2 separate regions of the Homo sapiens genome follow, and region 1 is linked to region 2. The links come from fine-mapping of genetic effects on gene expression. A gene starts in region 2. The other region holds a variant in brackets. All regions are shown on one strand. Distances are from middle to middle.

Region 1 (4,336 bases), 110 kb after region 2:
TTAGAAAGAGCTCCCTCCAAAGGCAGCGTGGCGGCCAGCATGGATGCAGAGACCTCACCATCCCCAGACAGGCATCTGGCCCCTCCTCTGGTCATGCCCCTCCCTACGGAATGAGGACTCTGCAAAGCCAAGGGGTCTCGCCTGCCAGAAGCCTGTGCCCACCTTTGAGACCACCCATCCCTGCCAACAAAGTGTCCAGTTTCAGAATTCCCCGCCAAATGGCCCTGAGCCACATCCGGCACCTGCCTGGGCCTCTCCAGGGTCAGTCTTCCCAAGGGCAGACCACAGACATTATTCAGCACTCCAGGCCCAAGAAGCGGCCAATGGGGGGCTATTTGCAGACTGTGAACAGGCTGGGGCAGCCACACACGTGTGGGTCAGAGCCAGGGTGGGCCATGAGCCAGAGGCTTCCATTTTTTCTCTTGCCCCAGCCCTCTAGATGTTACAGTTTAGACCTGGGGCAGAGACACCTTTAAAACACTGGCTTCTTCACCTTGGAATCACCTGGTGAGCTTTAAAAACTACTAAAGTCTGGGTCCCAGGTTCCCCCGTTCTGAGTTTATTGGTCCAAGGTGAGAAGTGAGTTAGGGGCTTAAAGCTCCCCAGGTTCTCATGGGCAGCCAGGGTCGAGAGGTGCTGCTGTAGAGACAATGCCACGGTCCAGGTCAGAGAGAACAAAGGGAGAGAGGAGGGTCTGTTCTAGGCAGCTGGGAGACAGGCTCCTGCATGAGTGAGTGGAGGCAGCCATGATGGAAGAGGGAGCGTGGGAAGCCTCTGTTTGGAGGACAGAGCTGCACATGTGGGGTTTGGGGTGTTTTTTGAGATATCCATGGGGAGATGTCTAGCAGGCAGGTGGATACATGGCCTGGATCTCAGTTCAGATCTCTGGGCCTGAGGTAGAGTTGGAATTACCAGCACATAAATGGTGGCTGAGGCTGTGAACTTGACTTTGAGCCAAGGGCATGTGGGCCAAGAGGAGAACATCAGTTGTACTCCCAAACTCCATTCTCTGTCTGTCGATCCATTCCTCCATCCTAGGCCAGAGTCAGTTTAGTAGTAGAGGGGCCTCCATAATTTGGGGGACCAGAGTCCCTAATCAGTTCGCCTACAGCAGGATGGTTGTGGGGAGACCTTAACAACAATCTGCTCTTCTTTCCCTCTTGCTCCACCCTCACACCCCACCCCCACCCCCATCCACCACCTGCCCCAACCCCATGCCCTTCCTCTCCTTTCCTCCTCCCACCTGCCCCCACTTTGCTTTGCCTGTCCCATCTCCCTCCTTGACACCCCCTCCCCCACCCCAAGGTGAAGGTCTGGTTCCAGAACCGCCGCACCAAGCAGAAGAAAGACCAGAGCAGAGACCTGGAGAAGCGGGCGTCCTCCTCAGCCTCCGAGGCCTTTGCCACCTCCAACATTCTGCGGCTGCTGGAGCAGGGCCGGCTGCTCTCTGTGCCCAGGGCCCCTAGCCTCCTGGCGCTGACCCCTAGCCTGCCAGGCCTACCTGCCAGCCACAGGGGCACCTCCTTAGGTGACCCCAGGAACTCCTCCCCACGCCTCAACCCGCTGTCCTCGGCCTCAGCGTCCCCCCCACTGCCGCCCCCTCTGCCAGCTGTCTGCTTTTCCTCGGCCCCGCTCCTGGATCTGCCTGCCGGCTACGAACTGGGTTCCTCGGCCTTCGAGCCATACAGCTGGCTAGAACGGAAAGTGGGCAGCGCCAGCAGCTGCAAGAAAGCTAACACTTAAGACTCCCACCCTGTGACACTGAGTCCCGAGCACAGCACCTTCCCAGTCTCCTGTGCCCCAGCGGACAGCACTGAGCAGGCCCCGGAGAGGAGGGGCTGCAGCCACACACTCTTCCCCACCTGCCCCCCAGCTCAGAGACTCGTGACCAAATGGCCTTGGTCCCGCAGCTTGTGTGCGTGAGTGCAGTGTGAGTGTGTGTGTCTCTCACTGAAATAAAAGGAAAACAATGACAAGAAGGGAAATGGTGCCCACAGCACAACTACTTACCCCTCAATCCCTTCTATCCCTCTTGTCACTGGAAGGGAAAATGGGCTTAGAGTCAGAGGGACCTCAGATGGGAGAGGGCAGAAACTGGGATTCTGGGGGTCAGGGGACTCACATGTGTCGGTCAGCAGGCACCTGATTCCCACTCAATAGAAGCCCATGGCACCAACACGAATTCTTTGGTTAAATGTTGCCCTTTACAAGCTCTCTTTCAAACATAAAAATACTTGAGAGAGGGAAACATTGTCACCTTGAAGAGGGTGAATGGTGAAAGGGGAGACCAGGTTGAGAGAGAGGGAGAGAGAGCATCAAAGCTAAACACAAGCAAGAGTCCAGATGTTTAGAGACGGCCTACCCATCACAAACTGCAACATGAAACCCTTTAAAATATCTATACACAGCCTGGCCAACATGGGGAAACTCCATCTCTACTCAAAATACAAAAATTAGCTGGGCATGGTGGCGGGCGCCTGTAATCTCAGCCACTCAGGAGGCTGAAGCAGGAGAATCGCTTGAACCCAGGAGGTGGAGGCTGCAGTGAGCCAAGATCATGCCTCTGCATTTCAGCCTGACAACAGAGGGAGACTCTGACT[C/CAAAAAA]AAAAAAAAAAAAAAATATATATATATATATACACACACACACACACACACACACACATACATATTATATATATTTCATATTGCTCAAACAATATAAATTTTTTTAAAGTTAAATAAGAGTCTTGCTCAAGACTCTTTTATTTAACTTTTTATTTTGCAGTAATTATAGATTTACAGGAAGCTGCAGAGATAGGACAGAGAAGTTCCTTCCATTGGCAGGAACTCAATAGTATGAGACAGATAGGCTTCATCTTCCCTAACTATAGTACAATATCAAAACTAGGAAATTGGCATTGGTACCGTGTGTGTGCATAGTGCCATGTCATTTTATAGATTCATGGACTCACTGCTGCAATCCAGATGCAGACCTGTTCCATCACCACAGAGATCTTCCTCATGCTGCTCCTTGATGGTCACACCCACCCCCGCCCTCCACAGGAGAGTTCTTTGAAAGGATGGGCATTAGGAACCAGAGACCTGAAATGGGTCCTCAGGAGGGAGGATGCGGGGTAAGATTTTGACTCTGTGAAGAGAAATAACAAGCACAGTCTCCTCCAGTCTGCTCTGAGAAACATAGTAGCTGCTGCTTTGGTTTCAAATTGGCTGTCCTGAGTCACCTGGAGTGGGTGCTTGGGGACAGTGATCCCTAGGCAAATGTACTTCTGCCGTTCCCTCTGCTCAGTGGTATGGTTTGGGGAGGAGCTTAGAAATGCAGAAATCCTGAGCCTAGAATGAGGCATGGGGGTGACTAGAAGACCTTGGGTTGGGCAGGTCCAGCTACCACCCAGGGTCCACCCTGCCTTGCCCAGAGGAACTGTACCACACTCCACTCACCAGGAGAAACCACAACTCTTAGTTTCATGACATGAAGAGAGAGTTCTTGGGAAGCAGTGGTGAGGTCTTGGGTGGAACCCAGGCCAGGCTGTGCACATAGTTTGATTTATAACTCCAGGTATTTAGTTATACAATACAGGGACCTCCATTTTACTTTCTGACCTGGGCTGGAAAGGTCAGGGCAGGCCTGCTGTATAGAAATCTGGAGGTGAATGTGAGAAGATGAGACACGGTTCTATGATCAGATGGAGAGAGACCAGCCCTCATTCTCAAGAACTCTCAATAGTATGAGACAGACAGGCTTCAGGAGACCCAGGTCTGTGGGTTGAGACACAGGCTCAGCTTTTGGGGGCTCACAGCCCAGTGGCAGGGACAAGAGAGGCCTCTCCTAAAGGGCATGACTTAGGAAAGAGGCTAGATGTGTAGTAAATCTTGGCTGCTAGAGAATCCAGAGAAGGCTTCATGTAGGAGATGGCACTGAGGCTGACCAGGAAATAATTCTCTACAGATGTTCAAAAAGATGACGATGGAATTGTCAGGGGGCAGAAGTATCCAGGTATAGTCAGGGCAAGGAGTGCAGGGTAAGGTCAGGTTGCGAGAACAGTGAAGAAAGGGCAGCCTGCCAGAAGTTGGGTGTGGAGAGACCAGAAAGAGCTGTGGTGAGGGACGAGTGTGGGAATGTTGACAGCACCTGATGGTCCAGGGGAGGAATTGAATTCATACAGTTTGGGGTTGGCGGGGAGGAACCGCCTAGCACAGAAGAAGGAAAAAGCCAGCCCTCCCCTCTTCCCTTCTCCCTCCACATCCTCCAGCTCTCAGGTGACGGGGGCCCCTCCCAGACCTGCACAGCTTGGTGTGGGGAAAGCTTGGGAGCCAGAGCCCCAGGCTTCCTTGTTTACTGT
Region 2 (4,384 bases):
GACAGAATGGAGAATACGGAAGTAGACCCCCACACATATGGACAATCGAATTTCAACAAAGGTGCAAAGGCAATTCACGGAGAAAGATAACTTTTTCAACAAATGGTGCTGGAACAATCAATTTCACACCATTATACAATAATTAACTCAAATGAGGCAGAGACCTAAATGTAAAACTAAAAACCGGGCTGGGCATGGTGGCTCACGCCTGTAATCCCAGCACTTTGGGAGGCTGAGGTGGGCAGATCACGAGGTCAGGGGATCGAGACCATCCTGGCTAACACGGTGAAACTCCGTCTCTACTAAAAATACAAAAAATTAGCCAGGCGTGGTGGCGGGCGCCTGTAGTCCTAGCTACTCCAGAGGCTGAGGCAGGAGAATGGCATGAACCTGGGAGGCAGAGCTTGCAGTGAGCCGAGATCACGCCACTGCACTCCAGCCTGGGTGACAGAGCGAGACTCCGTCAAAAAACAAAAACAAAAACTAAAACTAAAAACTGTACAATTTCCAGAAACAAAGGAGAACATCTTTGTAGCCTTGGATTAGGCAGATTTCTCACATACGAGATCATGAGAATAATCCATAACAGAAATAAAATGATAAATTAGACTATCAAAATTAAAATCTTGTTAGGAGAATGACAAGACAAGTCACAGACTGAGAGAAAAATATTTGCAAATCACATGACTAGCAAAGAACAAAGAGTACATACTCTATGATCTCTTATCTATAAAACTCTAGAAAAAGCAAACTAATCTATAGTTACAGCAAGTAGATCTGTGGCTGCCCAGGGATGAGGAGAGGAAGGGAGAGGAAGGAATTACAAAGAGCCACAAGGAAACTTTGGGGTGAGGAGGATGACTATGTGATGATGATTGTGGTGATGGTTTCAGGGGCACACACATATGTCAAAACTTAACAGATTGTATGCTTTAAATATATACACCATTAGACCTCAATAAAACTGTGTTTTTAAAAAATTATCTCTTTCTGTGAGGATGGTGGAGCCCATTCAGTGGTCAGAGGGTACCAGGAGAGAAGCTCATCCTAGGGTCTGAGCATCTGAAGGCCCCAGTTCCCTCTGCACCCCACCCCCACTGTGGCTACTCACTGTTGGGTTCAAAAGGTAAATGCCCAGTAATGTTGTCTCCCAGAATTACGGCTTGCACAGGCTTCGGAACAGGTCTTGTCTGCTGTTGAACTGAGACATTCCATTTTTCCAGGTCAGCAAATCCCCAGCCCTGAGCCTGGGAGGATACGCTGTCCCACACAGAGGTAGAGTTCCAGAACCGGGGAGATAGCAGCAAAGACCCTCCCAGGGTTTCCCTCATGAACCTCAGTTCTTGGGAGGCTCCCCCTTGGACAGTGGCCTTTATCTGTTCCCAGGGAAGCTGTGGCTTGGGCCTGGAGCTGGAGGTGGAATGATCTTTCTGGGAGCAGAGAGGCCCAGAGAGTGTGCATCTGGGGCCCCTGGGGACTTTGTGCTGAAAGGAGAGAAAGTTAGTGAGATTTGGGTCACCTGGGGGCTTACCCACTACAAAGAGAGTCACAAGAGAGAAGACCAAGGTCACAGCCATAAATGCCGGGGTAGCCTGAACGAGCCTCGGTATCTTGGGGGCTGCAGGAGCCATTGCCACAGAGTCCACCTCTGCAGGGGAGAAGGCAGTGTCCAAGGTGAGAGGGTGCTGTGCAAGGTAAGAGGGTGCTGTGCAGGCTGAGACACAGCCTCTCTGATTCTGTTTCCTGGGTTGTCTAATGGGGATGATAACTCCTGCCATGCTTATCATGCAGGTGGTTATGGAGAAGGAAGACAAAACACTTTGGGCTGTTCACCAGAGCTAGATGTGGATATGGTAGCAACACAGAGCTGAGGAGCTCTGAGACCGAGACCACCGATCTCCAAATCTCAAGGAGGCTTTGGTGGTGCACAGGGCACAGAACCTGGCACAGAGCACAGAGCAACAAAAGTGTAGTTTGAATGAAAGAAGAAAGGAAGGGAGGGAGGCCTCACAGGACCAGCTCAGTGTGCAGAGCCGGGATTCCAAGCCAGGACCATCTGAATTCAAAGTTCATCCCCTTTCTCTTGCCAGGTCTGCATCCCCAAGGACAAGGGTCTGGGGAGAGCAATAAGACAGCAATAAGCTGCCTTATGGCAGAGGGCCAAAGGACAGGCAGGCTACTCCCTCACTGGGCAAGAGCTGGGGCCCCAGTTTTCTCACCTTGGGGGTGCAGGGAGACACACTGGTTATCTGTGCAGAAGCGGACTGCCTCACCGTCCATCTCTGCTTCCTTGATCCTCCAGCACTGCTCCCAGCCACTGGCTCCTGGAAGGGCCGTCCCGTGGACCAATGGCAGTGGAAGCAAAGCTGAGACACCCACACTTATATGCTCCTGACCACCCTCCCAGCTCTTCCTCCCTCCCTGCCTGACTCTGCAGAAACCCGCCCCAGTGGGCCCCTCCCCTAGAGGCTCCCAGATACCCATCTGCCCTATTTTCTTCCTCTTCCCATTAGCACCTTCCCGTCAGTTCTCAGCCCCATCATCCCAGCCTCTGCCGCATCCAGCATAACCCCAAACACACCTCTTCTTCTCTGGGGGCTGGGACTGGCACCTAGGAAGGGGGTCTCAGCTTTGCACAGAAAACATCCTTATGACTATGGCTGACCTTTAATTCTAGCCTCAGAACCTCTTAAGTAAAAGGAGTCAGGTAAAAGAGGGGCCAGGTCAGTGCGGCCGATATTTGCAGGTCAAAGGAGGAAGCGGGGTGACCAGCCACTTGGGGACTCACAACTGAATTATAGTATACAGGAGGATGTGCGGAGGTTATATAAAAATACTACATGATTTTGTACAAGGGACTTGAGCATCTGTGGACTTTGGTACCCATGGGAGTCCTGAAACAAATCCCCTGCAGATACCAAGGGACAACTCTGTAAAAAATATATCTGGTCTTCATCTCAGTTCCTGACACAGAACTCCTAAAACGCTTAGAGTTTCCTGGGTGACAGGAGTGTTTTTTGTTATTCATAATAAGCCCCTTAGGACTACACTTGGGTTTATGCTAATGAGGTGACACAGGGTGGACCCTTAGATAATTTCAGGCTGGAGGCTGGTCCCAGAAAGACCAAACATGGGATTAGACTTTGGAAGACTGGGACTTTCAGCCACCCACTCCCATTCCCTACTCCCAGACCTCCAGGTATGGGAGATGGCCTGGGGTCTGGGCTATAACGACTCTTAAAAAATGAGATTCAAGGAGCTTAGGGATTGGTGATCCACATGCCAGGAGGGTGTCATGCCCTGACTCCACAGAGACAGAGTCTCCTGCACTTGGGACCCCACTGGGCCTTGCCCTGTGTACCTCTTCATCAGGCTGTTTTTGTCCTTTACAATAAAAGAATAGGAAGTACAGTGTTTTTCTGAGTTCTGTGAATTGTTCTAGTGAATTATGAAAACTGAGAGGTTGTTGCAGAAACCCCCTAATTTTTTGTTTGAGACAGGGTCTCCCTCTGTCACTCAGGCTGGAGTGCAGTGGTACGATCATAAGTCAATGCAGCCTTGAACTCCTGGACACAAGTGATCCTCAGTTCTCAGCCCCAACATCCCAGCCTCTGTCACATCCAGCATAACCCCAGCATAACTGGGACTACAGGTGTGTGCCAACATACCTGGCTAATTTTTTATTTTTATTTTTTTGTAGAGATGGGATCTCTTTTTATACCCCAGGCTGGTCTGGAACTCCTGGCTTCAAGTGATCCTCCCACCTCAGCCTCCCAAAGTGCTGGGACTACAGGCATGAGCCACCTTGCCTAGCCAGAACCCCCAAATTTGTAGTTGACCAGGCAGAAGTGGGGTCACTACCTCACTTGTAGCTAGCATCTGAAGGGGGGCAGTCTTGTGGGACTGAGGCCTTACCCTGTGAGATCTGTGCTAACTCTGGAAGTTAGTGTTAGAATCTGTTTGAATTGTTGGATGCCCAGCGGGTGTCAGAGAATCGGCTGGTGTCAGGAAAAAGCACACATTTGGTGTCAGAAGTGGTGTCAGAAAATACCAAGCAGGCCCCAACTTTAGCTGATTGGATCCATGCCTCCTGAGGTGACCAGGTTCTCAAGACTAACTCCAAAGAATCTGATGGAGCAGGCTGGGGCCAATGTGTGGCTTTCAATGAGCCCTATCCCTTCCAGGAGGAACAGATACTGCTTCAGGGGTTCCTGCTGCTGGGTGGGCCTAGCATTAGAAGAGAAGGCATGAGGCATCCCAGTGGACAGTGCCATGGAGCTGTGCAAACGTGATGTCCCTGTCCCTGCCACAGGGGTTACCAGCTGAACAGAACCAATATTCCCATGGCTGGTCAAGGAACCCCTCTAAAAGCCAGTGCTGGGGT

What was found. PIP is the estimated chance that this variant, and not a neighbour inherited with it, causes the effect.
Region 1: its variant is the best candidate, but not a certain one, in a credible set for the expression of CLEC4F in skeletal muscle (FUSION, PIP 0.60).

Annotation. Positions count from the first base shown.
Region 1 is chr2:70,931,462-70,935,797 of GRCh38, forward strand. VAX2 (ventral anterior homeobox 2) reads left to right here. Exons shown (of 3, transcript NM_012476.3): 3 at 1,306-1,985. The coding sequence ends at 1,743. Among named protein-coding and RNA genes, the nearest start is that of ATP6V1B1, 2.3 kb to the right of the region's middle. The variant C/CAAAAAA (reference allele first, on the strand shown) is at 2,601.
Region 2 is chr2:70,818,244-70,822,627 of GRCh38, forward strand. It overlaps CLEC4F (C-type lectin domain family 4 member F), which reads right to left and starts at 2,356. Exons shown (of 7, transcript NM_173535.3): 1 at 2,220-2,356; 2 at 1,532-1,648; 3 at 1,112-1,201. The coding sequence starts at 2,280.